2 separate regions of the Homo sapiens genome follow, and region 2 is linked to region 1. The links come from fine-mapping of genetic effects on gene expression. Tissue or cell type: whole blood. Region 1 holds a variant in brackets; the other region holds the start of a gene. All regions are shown on one strand. Distances are from middle to middle.

Region 1 (8,186 bases):
GCTGTGGTTTGTAGATAGTACATTAGCAACTGAGGGTTGTCTTTAATAAAACAAATGAGTTTCTTCGGAAAGAGCTGCAGGTTTATTTTGAGCTGGTTATCTCTAAGTATAAAAAGAGAGTGTGGGAATAAAGGAAAATATTTTGCCACAAATCATTGTATATCTGATGTTAATTAAAATGACTTATAAAGCTATTCGTACTTCTCAACTGTACCACATGGATTTTTTTCCATTTAGAAAATTGTATGTGACTAAACTCTGGAGTCCCAGTTGGATGATTTAGAACATTATCCATTTCCCTTCTCCTTATTTCCCTTAGTTTCTGCCATGACCAAACAATTCTATAAGACTTTTCTTTAAGATGTCTAAAATGGTGATACTGTGCACACTGTGGTATAGTTTAAGCACTGTGGATTGCAACTTAGATATTGAAGATCAGAAATACAACAAAAACTTAATGTTGACAGATTTTGGATATAGAGACTAAAGAAATTAAATATTAAGGATCTAGAGATTTTCCTAGAAGCATTTTGAAGTGTTAAGAACATTAAAGGCTTAAAGAGATAGTTCATATTTCCAAGTATGAAAGCCTTTTTTTTAAAATGTGTAAATTTAAGGAGTACAAGTGCAGTGTTGTTACATGATATACTGCATAGTGGTGAAGTCTGAACTTTTAGTGTCTCCATCACCCATAATATACATTGTACCCATTAATAAATTTCCTATCATTTACACCTACTTCTCACCCACCCTACCCTTTCAAGTCTCCAATGTGTATTATTCCACACACTGACCACGTGTATTCATTATTTAGCTGCCACTTATAAGTGAGAACGTGCAGTTTGTTTTTCTGCTTCTGGGTTGTTTCACTTAAGATAATGGCCTCCAGTTCCATCCATGTTGCTGCAAAAAAACCCAAACAAACATGTTTTCCTTTTTTATGGCTGAATAGTATTCCACTATGTACCCTAAGTGTTATTAAAATGATTTAGTGGCAGTGTTATCTGTAACACCTTTTAAAATTTATCTGTGAAAAAATCTTTGATTATACACATAAAAAGATTATTCCTTTTTAACTGTCTAGAGAGAAGTCTTGTTAGTCATAGTTAGTGAGTCATCTTCTAGTATGAAAAGAGTTCCACTGGGAAAGGATCTTATTGGTAGCATAGAAATGTTATGTCTACAAAATATGGATAATCCCAGCCATGTTATTACCTCCTTCCCCTGTGTTTTCCACAAATCCATTTGGGTTGTATGGCTTAACCTGTAAACACATTTCCCTCTGCTGCCTATTGTAAAGGACATGGATTCGCCTTCACCATCAGCATATTTTACTGTTATCTTTTCTTCTTTGGTAGGTCACTGATCCAAAGCGGCCTCTTTCATTTGGTGTCACACTGGGAGAGCTTAGTCTACTGGTAATGTTTGCTTTATTTTAAACTTCTATGGAACCTGTAAAGTATTATTCTGAAGTCACAGGGTAAATTGTCTAGAATCAACTATGCGACAAAGAACTATGATTTTTTAAATATATTATCATGCTAAACAACTTTTCTAGAAGTTTAACATTTTTAGTGATGCTATTATTACATTTTAAAATTATTTTTGTCTTTCTGTGTAACAGGTATCAAAATATCATTATCAAATGATTTGAAAGAAATAAAAGCTGTATCTTAAACATGTGGGGGAAGTAGGGGAAGATGAATTTCTGTAGAGTCATGTACTCATCTTCGGTATAGGTAGATGGAATTTCTAAATAGCTTATAGATATGCATATGTTTATGTATGTGTGTGTGTGTGCGCACACTCATCTCATTGGGCAATATGTAAATTAATTTATTTTGATTATTTTATAATGAGTTTTTCTTTTAATGGTCTTTAACAGTAGACAGTGTGTGTCTGTATATATATACACACATACATATATATATATGTATATATATATATAGGCTGGACATTTTTATTTCTATTACAGGCAACTAAGTGGTAGGAAACATGTTTTGGGGCATGTATGGAGAGGAAGATGTGGTTCACTTAGATACTTTTAAAGTTAAGGACAGTACAGGAATTGAATTCAGCTCTGCACCAAGCAGACCCAATAGACATCTACAGAACTGTCCACCCCAAATCAACAGAATATACATTCTTCTCAGCACCACACCTCACCTATTCCAAAATTGACCACATAGTTGGAAGTAAAGCACTCCTCAGCAAATGTAAAGAACAGAAATTATAACAAACAGTCTCTCAGACCACAGTGCAATCAAACTAGAACTCAGGATTAAGAAACTCACTCAAAACCACTCAACTACATGGAAACTGAACAACCTTCTCCTGAATGACTACTGGGTGCATAACGAAATGAAGGCAGAAATAAAGATGTTCTTTGAAACCAACGAGAACAAAGACACAACATACCAGAATCTCTGGGACACATTAAAAGCAGTGTGTAGAGGGAAATTTGCAGCACTAAATGCCCACAAGAGAAAGCAGGAAGGATCTAAAATTGACACCCTAACATCACAATTAAAAGAACTAGAGCAGCAAGAGCAAACACATTCAAAAGCTAGCAGAAGGCAAGAAATAACTAAGATCAGAGCAGAACTGAAGGAAATAGAGACACAAAAAACCCTTCAAAAAATCAATGAATCCAGGAGCTGGTTTTTTGAAAAGATCAACAAAATCGATAGACTGCTAGTAAGACTAGTAAAGGAGAAAAGAGAGAAGAATCAGATAGACGCAATAAAAAATAGTAAAGGGGATATCACCACCGATCCCACAGAAATACAAAACTACCATCAGAGAATACTATAAACACCTCTACGCAAATAAACTAGAAAATCTAGAAGAAATGGACAAATTCCTCGACACATACACCCTCCCAAGACTAAACCAGGAAGAAGTTGAATCTCTGAATAGATCAATAACAGGCTCTGAAATTGAGGCAATAATTAATAGCTTACCAACCAAAAAAAGTCCAGGACCAGACGGATTCACAGCCGAATTCTACCAGAGGTACAAGGAGGAGCTGGTACCATTCCTTCTGAAACTATTCCAATCAATAGAAAAAGAGGGAATCCTCCCTAACTCATTTTATGAGTCCAGCAGCATCCTGATACCAAAGCCTGGCAGAGACACAACCAAAAAAGAGAATTTTAGACCAATATCCTTGATGAACATCGATGCAAAAATCCTCAATAAAATACTGGCAAACCGAATCCAGCAGCACATCAAAAAGCTTATCCACCATGGACAAGAAGGCTTCATCCCTGGGATGCAAGGCTGGTTCAACATACGCAAATCAATAAATGTAATCCAGCATATAAACAGAACCAAAGACAAAAACCACATGATTATCTCAATAGATGCAGAAAAGGCCTTTGACAAAATTCAACAGCCCTTCATGCTAAAAACTCTCAATAGATTAGGTATTGATGGGATGTATCTCAAAATAATAAGAGCTATTTATGAAAAACCCACAGCCAATATCATAGTGAATGGGCAAAAACTGGAAGCATTCCCTTTGAAAACTGGCACAAGACAGGGATGCCCTCTCTCACCACTCCTATTCCACATAGTGTTGGAAGTTCTGGCCAGGGCAGTCAAGCAGGAGAAAGAAATAAAGGGTATTCAATTAGGAAAAGAGGAAGTCAAATTGTCCGTGTTTGCAGATGACATGATTGTATATCTAGAAAACCCCATCGTCTCAGCCCCAAATCTCCTTAAGCTGATAAGCAACTTCAGCAAAGTCTCAGGATACAAAATCAATGTGCAAAAATCACAAGCATTCTTATACACCAATAACAGACAAACGGAGAGCCAAATCATGAGTGAACTCCCATTCACAATTGATTCAAAGAGAATAAAATACCTAGGAATCCAACTTACAAGGGACGTGAAGGACCTCTTCAAGGAGAACTACAAACCACTGCTCAATGAAATAAAAGAGGACACAAACAAATGGAAGAACATTCCATGCTCATGGATAGGAAGAATCAATATCGTGAAAATGGCCATACTGCCCAAGATAATTTATAGATTCAGTGCCATCCCCATCAAGCTACCAATGACTTTCTTCACAGAATTGGAAAAAACTACTTTAAAGTTCGTATGGAACCAAAAAAGAGCCCACATTGCCAAGTCAATCCTAAGCCAAAAGAACAAAGCTGGAGGCATCACGCTACCTGACTTCAAACTATACTCCAAGGCTACAGTAACCAAAACAGCATGGTACTGGTACCAAAACAGAGATACAGACCAATGAAACAGAACAGAGCCCTCAGAAATAATACCACACATCTACAACTATCTGATCTTTGACAAACCTGACGAAAACAAGCAATGGGGAAAGGATTCCCTATTTAACAAATGGTGCTGGGAAAACTGGCTAGCCATATGTAGAAAGCTGAAACTGGATCCCTTCCTTACACCTTATACAAAAAT[C/T]AATTCAAGATGGACTAAAGACTTACATGTTAGACCTAAAACCATAAAAACCCTAGAAGAAAACCTAGGCAATACCATTCAGGACATAGGCATGGGCAAGGACTTCATGTCTAAAACACCAAAAGCAATGGCAACAAAAGCCAAAATTGACAAATGGGATCTAATTTAACTAAAGAGCTTCTGCACAGCAAAAGAAACTATCATCAGAGTGAATAGGCAACCTACAGAATGGGAGAAAATTTTTGCAACCTACTCATCTGACAAAGGGCTAATATCCAGAATCTACAAAGAACTCAAACAAATTTAGAAGAAAAAAACAACCCCATCAACAAGTGTGCGAAGGATATGAACAGACACTTCTCAAAAGAAGACGCTTCTCAAAAGAAGACATTTATGCAGCCAACAGACACATGAAAAAATGCTCATCATCACTGGCCATCAGAGAAATGCAAATCAAAACCGCAATGAGATATCATCTCACACCAGTTAGAATGGCGATCATTGAAAAGTCAGGAAACAACAGGTGCTGGAGAGGATGTGGAGAAATAGAAACACTTTTACACTGTTGGTGGGACTGTAAACTAGTTCAACCATTGTGGAAGACAGTGTGGCGATTCCTCAGGGATCTAGAACTAGAAATACCATTTGACCTAGCCATCCTATTACTGGGTATATACCCAAAGGAATATAAATCATGCTGCTCTAAAGACACATGTACACATGTGTTTACTGCAGCACTACTCACAATAGCAAAGACTTGGAACCAACCCAAGTGTCCAACAGTGATAGACTGGATTAAGAAAATGTGGCACATATACACCATGGAATACTATGCAGCCATAAAAAATGATGAGTTCATGTCCTTTGTAGGGACATGGATGAAGCTGGAAACCATCATTCTCAGCAAACTATTGCAAGGACAAAAAACCAAACACTGCATGTTCTCACTCATAGGTGGGAATTGAACAATGAGAACACTTGGACACAGGAAGGGGAATATCACACACTGGGGCCTGTTGTGGGGTCGGGGGAGGGGGGAGGGATAGCATTAAGAGATATACCTAATGTAAATGACGAGTTAATGGGTGCAGCACACCAGCATGGCACATGTATACATACGTAACTAATCTGCACGTTGTGCACATGTACCCTAGAACTTAAAGTATAATAAAAATATATATATATATAAAATAAAGTTAAGGACAGTGAACCATATATCATACCAGACAAGTTTGCCTTATGACTACTTATATGGAGAGGGCCTCAATAAGGAAAGAAGAGGAAGAAGAATGGTAGGGTGGTAGACTGGCAGAGAAACAGAAAAAGAAGGACATGGTTATGTGGAAGGCTTCACAATGTTGTGGGCATATAGAGAAGTAGAGATACACATCGCATTGAAGAACAGAGCAGAAACAATAAAGAAAAAGAGAGAGCTGAAGAAACAAAGGAAAGGCAGTGAAGGAAACTAGTTTTTTTTTTTTTTTTTTTTTTTTGGACTTCTTTTTTTATTTTTTATTTTTATTATACTCTAAGTTTTAGGGTACATGTGCACATTGTGCAGGTTAGTTACATATGTATACATGTGCCATGCTGGTGCGCTGCACCCACTAACGTGTCATCTAGCATTAGGTATATCTCCCAATGCTATCCCTCCCCCCTCCCCCCTCCCCCGACCCCACCACAGTCCCCAGAGTGTGATATTCCCCTTCCTGTGTCCATGTGATCTCATTGTTCAATTCCCACCTATGAGTGAGAATATGCGGTGTTTGGTTTTTTGTTCTTGCGATAGTTTACTGAGAATGATGGTTTCCAATTTCATCCATGTCCCTACAAAGGACATGAACTCATCATTTTTTATGGCTGCATAGTATTCCATGGTGTATATGTGCCACATTTTCTTAATCCAGTCTATCATTGTTGGACATTTGGGTTGGTTCCAAGTCTTTGCTATTGTGAATAGTGCCGCAATAAACCATAAAAACCCTAGAAGAAAACCTAGGCATTACCATTCAGGACATAGGCGTGGGCAAGGACTTCATGTCCAAAACACCAAAAGCAATGGCAACAAAAGCCAAAATTGACAAATGGGATCTAATTAAACTCAAGAGCTTCTGCACAGCAAAAGAAACTACCATCAGAGTGAACAGGCAACCTACAACATGGGAGGAAACTAGTTTATCCTTTGCCTGTTTCCAAAATGAATTTGAGGTAGCTTTCGACAAAAACAAGTATACAGTAACACCTTTAAAGAGGATAGAATCTGTGTTCTAAAGGATAGAGAGAGAATTGTTCCAGAAAACTGTGACTAATGATAGTGGTCATAAGGGAGCAGAGTAACTTTGAGCTTCTAGCAGACAATGCAAAAAATACAAAATAGTCATATACCTCCTATTGTCTGATAACAGGTATACTATTGCATAAGAATGGGTAGTTTCCTTAGTGTTTGCTGCTGTTTGTCCCTTTGTATCTTTGCTCAGACTCTTCATTCTGCTTTAGTTGTCTGTATTACTTTCTGCCTGGTGATTCTACTCAAGTTTTAATACTTAAGTAATATATGACCTTTCTTTCTCATTCTTTTTCACTTCCTTCTTAGAATTTACCATTCCCTCTTTTATGCTTCCTATTGTATTTTGTCAAAGACCTGTAAAATATTATTGTACTGGTTATCATGTTAATCTCCTTCTGTCAAAACCACATTCATTCACTGAAGTAGTACCTACCTTTTAGTGTTTTTGTGATGATTAAATGAGATAGTTTATGTAAAGCTTTTGGCACATTGTCTGGCTCAATTATTTCCTGCTATTATAGTGGCTATTATAACAACTACAGCAATAGTAAACCTACCTCTTTTGTATCCATACCATTTATTTTTCTTTGCAATTACAATCTAACTTATAAATCTAAAGTTATCCTCCCACCTCTGATCTGGATCTCATTTTACCTATGTGCTCACTGTACTCTCACTCTACTACTCCACTGAAACAGTTCTTAACAAGTTTCTCAATAACGCCCTTGCTGCTAAATAAGTTTAGTGTTTGGTGTTGCTGAACATGCTGTCCTTGTAGAAACTTGGTCATGCTGTAATTTCCATACTCTCCTGGTTTTCTTCCTATTACAAAACAATTACTTGTTTTTTTAAAAAGAATGTATACCATATTCAATAGTGTATAGGCTGGCTCTCTGTTTTCATTCATACCTGATTCTTTCCACAGTTCAAATACATATTAACCCAGTAATTATTTTCTGAATGAATGAACTCAAATTAGAATCATGTCAATTCTCTTTTCATTGTTTCTTTGATTTTGTCTTATAAATATATGTAAAGAAATAGATAGCTAATACTAGTTAACATTAAGTAGATGTCATTTCTTCCTAAATTATTTTGTTACATTATGTAAGTATTAGAGCGCTATTAATGACATCCATACCACGTTTCACAGGTATTCCCTTTTTTCTTTTAGACTGCAAATGAACACTGGACTCCATGCATATTAAATGAAGCAGACAAAATTATATACAAGGTATTATGTTGGAATAAAAATTTTTGTTAGTTTCCTAGGTGCACTTAATTTATTTTCTTGAAGAAACATTGATGGAGCAGAATATGCCATTGGAGTGTGAGTTAAAAGTCTAGGGTCTAGTTTTGGCCCTGCTACTTACTATGTGACCCTCTGTAATCACTTACCAGTTCTGAGATATAGGTTCTTTACCTATCAAGTGAAGATACAGGATACAGTTAATAC
Region 2 (8,186 bases), 42 kb before region 1:
GCTCTAAGAGTAAAAGGAAATTAAACATTTTAAAGCATACTTACAAAAATATAGGAGGTTGAGTGTCAAGGAAAGCAAGAAGAGAGATTACAACCAATAAAACACCAGTGTTCTGACTTATGCATCTTGTTCAACACAACTAGAGTATGGGGTACTGGAAAGAATACAGAGCAGGGAGTCAGGACACTTGGGTTTGGGTTTTTGCTCTGACAGTCACTAACTTGTGGGACTTTGGGCAAACCCTTAATTCTCCCTGGCACTCAGTGTCTCCATCTGTCAATTGAGGGGGCTGGATTAACAGGATGATCCTCCCTCTGGCACTAACATTCTGAAATCCACTCCCGTGCTTTCTCCTAGTTAACCTCCCTAACTTTTCCTGCAGTCCATGGTGTCATGGCTTATACTCCAGCTTTCTCCTCCATTTCCTTTCCCCCAAATTCCTTCTGCTTTTCTCCAAAAACTCTAGGGTTGGGGAATAGGGTATGGGTGGTGGTTAGTGTGAAGTTTTTTTTTTTTTTTTAAACACTTTTGAGTTAATTTTTAAGTGTCCCTAACTTATACTTTTGTTTTTAACAGAAATACTTTGCTCATCTGTTTTTATTGTTTAGTCCCTCATTGAAGTTTAGTTTTGTAATTTCCTTTGTTGTCATTCTCATTGTTCTTAAGCCAGAATGAAGGCAAGAACTATAATTAATTAGAATGCTCATTTTCTTTAACCTCTGTTATCCAAATTATTTCTGATATAATGCCATACATAAGGGTGCTAATGGTGTTTCTTGACATTGGTTATAGTTTGTTTTAAATTGGGACTGTATATTTCTGACTTGTTAAATAATGGAAGATTTGGGGCATTACTGAATGCACATAATCAATCCCTTAAAACATGCTGAAAATGGAAAATAGTAAAATTTAAAGCTTTTTATACTACATGATAATAGCATTTTTTTGTACCAAAAATGTAGAGCCAAATTTTCCACTCTGAGATTTATTTTTTCTGTCATGAACCTTTCAAAGTAAGATCTCTGAAAATGACTAATAGCCCAGTGTTGATTAAATTGTATAATTACCAGAAGAGAAAAGGGTGGCAGTGCTCAGAGAATCAAAGGAAATTAATATCTGCTGTGTGACTTTGGGTAAGTCACTTAACATTCCCGAGCTTAATTTTTCTGTAAAATGAGGACCATACTACTACCTGCATTAGCTACCTCACAGCTCTTTTGTGAGGAGTACACAAAAATGCCTACCTTCGCATAATAATGACATGAGGCCTTACAAAGTATAACTGAAACATAATAAAATTGAATGATGCATATGAAAGCACATTTACACATTATTCTTTCAAAATTACCAAGTTATACCATAGAACTGTAAGGAATTACTTTATTAGACAAAGCATTAGTGTTACTCACTTCTCCCAAGAGATTGTGCCTATTGCTCCACCTGCTTGACCAAGCTATGTTGCCTGTGCCATCTTTCCTATCATCTTATACTGTTATTCATACATCCTTGGATTGGCTTCTTTCTTAACTTTTTATGGTACATGCCTTATCTCAACCAGAACATATATTGCTTCTTTACATTCCTCTTGGAGCATAGTCAGTGTGAATGTAAAAAGGAAGCGGGATTGTTAGAGTGTATGACTAGAAAGAACGTGGAGAAAGTTTGAAGAGAGTGTTCTAAACACTGGGAAGTTATTGGATGTTTTTGAGCAGGTGACTAACCTAAGCTCACCTGTGCTTTGGGAAAACACATCCGGTGTTCATGAGAATAGACTGGAGGAAGGAATAACTGGAGGCTAGGAAGTGAATTTCAAGGAGATGGATGGCATGGTCCAGAAGAAAAACATGGAGAATTTAGGAAAGATGGCAAAAGCAAAATAGACAGGTTAGGCTGTTATTTGGTTGTGGATGGTGAAGAAATCCAAAGTACTTACTAGTATTTTGTCTTTGTGACCAGCTAGGAAAAACAGACGGTTAAGGATTTATCTTCTTAAAGAGGAATGGAGTGTGCAAAAGTGGGAGAGGAATGTGATCTTGATAGTACTAGTTAGTACTGACTGGGTCTTTCTTTGTACTTTTAATTTTATTTAATACACAACACCAATTGTAGCCATTTTGATTTTCTTTCTTCTCCAGCGGACTTTGAATTTAAGATTTTTCTTTGTGATCCTGTGCAAGCCTAGGTTGTTTAAGAAAAATACACGAATAGTTTCTCAGACACTTCCTCGTAGCAAAGCACTTATTAATGCTTGTGACTACAAATAATCAGCATTTCTTAGGTTTCTTCCTGTGTACTGTATCTCAACAACTTTTTGAAATATATTTTAGGAAAAAATTTCTAGTTCTCTAAAGAGGTGAATCTCAATGGGTGGTTAAATTTCACAAGGGTTGAAAGATCTTGTGGTATAAAAGCTCTGCTTTTAAGGTCGTGCTACATCAAAGACAGTTCAACGATAGCATGGAAGAAAGTGATATATAAATAACAAGTAACTCATACTTAAAAAGGCACTACTACGTTTTGTTTTTTATATCTGTAATGAGATAGGTAACTGGTTAGTGGCTAGTGAATTAAAAGCGAATCTTAGAGAAAGGGGAAAAGAACGCGTTTCCCACAAAACGCGTATATTCAGTTCTCATTCTATGATATCTGCCATTTGATGTGGTTCTGTTCCCCTCCTCCCACTTTCAAATTATTTGTCGCGCGCCAGTGGTCCCAGCTACTCGGGAGGCTGACACAGGAGGATCTCTTGAGTCCAGGATGTCAAGTCTGTAGTGAGCTATGATCCCGACACTGCATTCTACCCTTGGCAACAGAGCGAGACCCTGTCTCAAAACAAAACAAAACAGAAACAAAATAAAAAAACAATGTTTTCAAGAAGCAGAGACCAAGCCCCAGGCGGAGTCGAACTCTAGCAGGACAAGAACGCGGTCGGTCCCTTTCCCCCACCTGATCCACAGGTGCAGGGGTGGTTGCCTAGGTGACGCTCAGCGCATACTCCAGGCCAGGCGGCTCCGGACACCGCGATGCGGCCGGAGTTCAACAGCAGGTGACGGCGGGAAAGCAGAGCGGCCACATAGATGTCCCTGTACTCGGTAACTCTTGCCCTCCCTTGTTCTTCTCGAAGGTCCTTTTTTTTCTCGTGCACGGCTGACGAGACAGGCGCAAGCTAACTTCCCCCGCACTCCTCCGTCGGCCTCTAGAGGGCCAGGGCTGCGGCGCCTACAAAGCCTCGGGATCACAGCTGGGCCTCCTTAGCTACCGGCCGGGCGACAGCGCGCCTGCGCACCGGCGGGGTCACGCGCGCGGCGCGGGGGTGGGCCTGCGCCGGAGGGGCTGTCATTTGCAGCGCTGGTCGCAGCCCTCAGCTGCGCCGGGCGGTTCCGGCTCCTCCCTCTCCTTGTGCCTCAGCGCCACCATGGTGCTGGAGTCGGTGGTCGCGGACTTGCTGAACCGCTTCCTGGGGGACTATGTGGAGAACCTGAACAAGTCCCAGCTGAAGCTGGGCATCTGGGGCGGTAAGCGAGAGGGCGCGGCCAGTGGGCTGCGGGCGCTGAGGGCCCAGCCGAGGGCTGCTCCGTCCGGGATTCTGCCCGGGCCCTGCTCCCTGCGCCGCCTGAGACTCCCCATCCCGGTGCGGCAGGTGCTAGATGCGGGAGCCTCTGCCGCCCGCGGATTCTCGGGGTCCCAGTCCCGACTCCGGCTGGGGAGATGCGGCGGGATCCCGCCCGCGCTGCCAAAGTTCCCACCTTTCTCGTCCCCCGAGGCCAAGCCCTGGCCCTGCTGTCCCCGCCCTGCCCGTTTCTGTGGTCCTCTCGCTGCACTCAGGGTGGCCCCTTTGGCCCTACAGCATAAAAACAGAGCCCTTTCTGTTTCGGTATCGCGTGGAGTGAGCATGGTTGTCTGGTCATATACGCTCGAAGTGGCACTAAGAAAAAAGGAGGAAGTTGCATCTCGCAGTTATCTTCACTATCATTTTACAGGGAGCAAGAACTGGGTTCCTTCTCTTTAGGATTACCGGGTTTGGAGAGGAACGGGCAGGAGATCTTTAAGATAGGCGTGTGCTTAGGGATTCTTACTCTTAATGCTTTCAGCTCCTGTGAAAATGATTTCTTCCTTTAATATTTACTTTTCCGTCAATACGAAGAGGATTTTGAATTTTGTTTTGGAGCAATAGAGAGAAATTCAAGCCTCGACCAGCATCGTCATTAATTAGGTGTCTGCTTGGTTGCATGCTCAGGAATTTATGCCAACGTTTTTATCCTGGAGATTAAGTGTATAAAAGTATTCAGGAAATAGTGTACTTAAACATACACTCTTCAACGAGCTTAATCGTTTGCATGAATTACGTGTTAAGCTTTGAGGACTTTGGGACTTTCTCACTCCACAAAAGGTTTGGGAACTTTGTCAGCTTTGGAGGAAAATTCAAAAAACGACTCAAATGTATGGATCTGCTTTTAATTCAAGCAACAACAAATAGCTATAGACTTCCCCTGTCCACTAGGGTAACCACTAGCCACTGTAGCTGTGGAGCACTTGATATGAGGTTAGTGCTAATTGAGACTTGCTGTATGAATTAAAACATCGTTTTGAATAAGCATTACTCCTAATGAAGTAGGAGAAAAAAATAATACCTCAATAATTTTTATGTTGCTTATGTGTTGAAATAATATTTGAATATATTGGGTTAAATTAAATATAATATTAAAGTGTATTTCCCGTGTTTTTTAGTTTTACTTTTTTTCTTTTTAAACTTGGCTTCTAAAATTTATAATTACGTATATGGAACATATATTGGGCAATGCTGTTTATACCCTGAATTACGGAAGAGCCTGGTTGTTGTTGTTGTTGTTTTTTTTTTTTGGCTTGTCTTTTTGAGACAAGGACTTGCTCTGTTGCCAAGGCTGGAGTGCAGTGGCAAGATCGTAGCTCATTGCAGCCTCCAACTCCTGGGCTGAAGTGATCCTCCTGCCTCAGCCTCCCAAAGTGCTAGGATTACAGGTGTGAGCTATAGTGCCTGGCAAGAGCCTGTTTTTAATAGGTGGCTGATCATTTGATTGGTTCACTGTGGTTTGCCCAACAATACAATAGTCCCTTGGTATCTATGGGGGATTGGCTTCAGTACCCCTGACCATACCAAAATTGGAGGTTGCTCAAGTCCCTTAAATAAAATGGCCTAGTATTTGTATGTACCCTATGCATATCCTTCTGTATACTTTTGGTCATCTCTGGATTGCTTATAATACCCAATAAGTAAGTGCTATGTAAATAGTTGTTCTGTTGTTTTTTAATTTGCATTTTTTTATTGCTGAATTGATACTTTTTATTTTTTCCCCCCGAAATATTTTTGGTCTGCAGTTAGTTCAGTCCGTGAATATGGAGGGCCTACTGTACATTCTTTGTTTACATCCCCCCACCACACTCAATACAATGTAAAGGAAAGGTAAGTAAAGAAAGACACATTTAAGGAATTAAATGACCAGCATCTTCTGCAGAAATCAAGTATTTCTTCAGAATACTGGCAATATTCTTTCCAGTGATTCCTTATAGTTTGTAAACATTTGAAACTTGAAAACGCACCGGAGTAGCAAATCTGAAATCTGAATAGGCCTAGTGAATGGTGTGCTGTGTTGGACAAGCCACTTACCTTATTGGGCCTTAGTTTCTTCATCTTAATTTAAACTTTATAGAAAAAATATTTTTAAATTCTGAAAAGTTTAAATCATACTGGATGATATAATACTTTCATGTAATTACTCATATTTCAATGTTATAATATTATGCCATATTTACTTTAGACATTTTCTTTTTAAAAAGATAAAACGTATGGATATAGTCAGAGGTTCCATTGCCATCAAATGTTACTCTCTTTTATCTTTAAAATTGGAGGTTGGACTAGGTAACATCGAAGGTGATGCCAATATTCTGTTCTTCTGATAATGGTTTTACCATGACATTGAGGAGTATACTGCTTGAAGATTTTGAAGTTTTTCACAACTGAAATTAAAAATGTCGTAATTTTATGTTATTTCCCCTTTTGTCTTTTTTTGGTGAAATCTAGAAAAGGAGACTTTCTTTCATCTCATTTTTAAATTTTTAGAATAAGGTATTCTGCCAGTGGCCAACATTAACTTTATAATAGGCCTGAGCAAATAAACCCATTTCTTTCACATATTGTGTCTAGTGAACATCCAATCAGGGATTCTCCTAGCTTTATCAGCTCACAACTCTGCCTCTGTAAAGCTTTGCTGCCTTTTATTTTTGTGGTTGCTATAAAGCTAGAAGTCACGAGCTTTTATCATTATTGCACAGTCTGTTGTTGATAACCCTAATTTCTCAATAAAATTGGAAGGCAAGATATCTGAGTTGATTTTTCCTGTTCTTTCAAAATATTGCTAAAGAAATTTGTCTTAAACTTTTTTGGGTAAACAAATGGGAATATTAATTTAATAAAATAGGTGACATTTTATGATAACCATGATGTTGACAAGTTTTACAAAAAATTGAAAATTCTATATAATCTTCTTTGACAACTATTTGCTTTAGCAGATAAGGTTTACAGTTCACAGAGTTTTTTTTTTGTTGTTGTTGTTGAATTTTCAAGTCTTGAGAAAGGGAAGAATTCATCTTGTAAATATTTCACTGTAGGGACCAGCCCCACAGGGTCGGTGGGTCTCTCCCTGTGTGCGGCGACGAGAGAGTGTAGAAATAAAGACACAAGACAAAGAGATAAAAGAAAAGACAGCTGGGCCCGGGGGACCGCTACCACCAATGCGCGGAGACCGGTAGTGGCCCCGAATGTCTGGCTGCGCTGTTATTTATTGGATACAAAGCAAAAGGGGCAGGGTAAAGAGTGTGGGTCATCTCCAATGATAGGTAAGGTCACGTGGGTCACGTGTCCACAGGACAGGGGGCCCTTCCCTGCCTGGCAGCCGAGGCAGAGAGAGAGAGGAGACAGAGAGAAAGATAGCTTATGCCGTTATTTCTGCATATCAGAGACTTTTACTACTTTCACTAATTGACTACTGCTATCTAGAAGGCAGAGCCAGGTGTACAGGATGGAACATGAAGGCGGACTAGGAGCGTGACCACTGAAGCACAGCATCACAGGGAGACGGTTAGGCCTCCGGATAACTGCGGGCAAGCCTGACTGATGTCAGGCCCTCCACAAGAGGTGGAGGAGCAGAGTCTTATCTAAACTCCCCCGGGGAAAGGGAGCCTCCCTTCCCTGGTCTGCTAAGTCGCGGGTGTTTTTCCTTGACACTTTTCGCTACCGCTAGACCACCTTCCGCTCGGCAACGGGCGTCTTCCTAGATGCTGGCGTTACCGCTAGACCAAGGAGCCCTTCTGCTGGCCCTGTCCGGGCATAACAGAAGGCTCGCACTCTTGTCTTCTGGTCACACCTCACTATGTCCCCTCAGCTCCTATCTCTGTATGGCCTGGTTTTTCCTAGGTTATGATTGTACAGCGAGGATTATTATAATATTGGGATAAAGAGTAATTACTGCAAACTAATGATTAATGATATTCATATATCTCTAAGATCTATATGGTATAACTATTCTTGTTTTATATTTTATTATACTGGAACAGCTCGTGTCCTTGGTCTCTTGCCTTGGCGCCTGGGTGGCTTGCCGCCCACCTCACATACCTGATCTTACTATTCTTTGGAATCAATTGATAAACTACTTTGATACATCTTAACTGGAATGTCTAACTAGCCTAAAGCAGTGATTTTCAGTGGGAGGTGACTTTGTACCCAGGGTATATTTGACAGTGTCTGAGACTTTTTGGTTGCCACACTGAGGGAAGAGGTGTGCTATTGGCATGTAGCAGATAGACCCTGGAGTACTGCTAAACATTCTACAATGCAGAGGACAACTTCCTGCAGCGAATTGTCCAGCTCAAAATGTTAGTTGAGAAACCCTAGTCTAAGAAGAAGACTGAGATTGTCTTCTGCATTTGTAAGGGACCTACTGGGTGCTGAAAAAATTGTAAGGTTTTAAAAAGGACACGGAAGAAGTAGATTACTCTTAACGAAATCTGTAATTCGAGAGAGAAATTGATATCTTAAGTGACTGAAAGGTATCATGTCAATAAAAATGCGTAATCTTTGCTTGGATGATCTTTGGAAGTAGTTTTAAGATCGAAATATTGTGTTAACATGATTTGGAAAACATCATAGTGTG

What was found. PIP is the estimated chance that this variant, and not a neighbour inherited with it, causes the effect.
Region 2: VPS13C starts here. The variant in region 1 is fine-mapped to the expression of VPS13C in whole blood (TOPMed, PIP 0.93).

What each region holds. Positions count from the first base shown.
Region 1 is chr15:62,013,711-62,021,896 of GRCh38, reverse strand. It overlaps VPS13C (vacuolar protein sorting 13 homolog C), which reads left to right. Exons shown (of 85, transcript NM_020821.3): 9 at 1,359-1,418; 10 at 7,905-7,964. Among named protein-coding and RNA genes, the nearest start is that of VPS13C, 43 kb to the left of the region's middle. The variant C/T (reference allele first, on the strand shown) is at 4,444.
Region 2 is chr15:62,055,604-62,063,789 of GRCh38, reverse strand. VPS13C (vacuolar protein sorting 13 homolog C) reads left to right here and starts at 3,343. Exons shown (of 85, transcript NM_020821.3): 1 at 3,343-3,515. The coding sequence starts at 3,416. It overlaps VPS13C-DT (VPS13C divergent transcript), which reads right to left and starts at 3,287. Exons shown (of 2, transcript NR_135690.1): 1 at 2,947-3,287; 2 at 1,356-2,822. RefSeq lists an enhancer at 3,032-3,081 and a silencer at 3,132-3,481.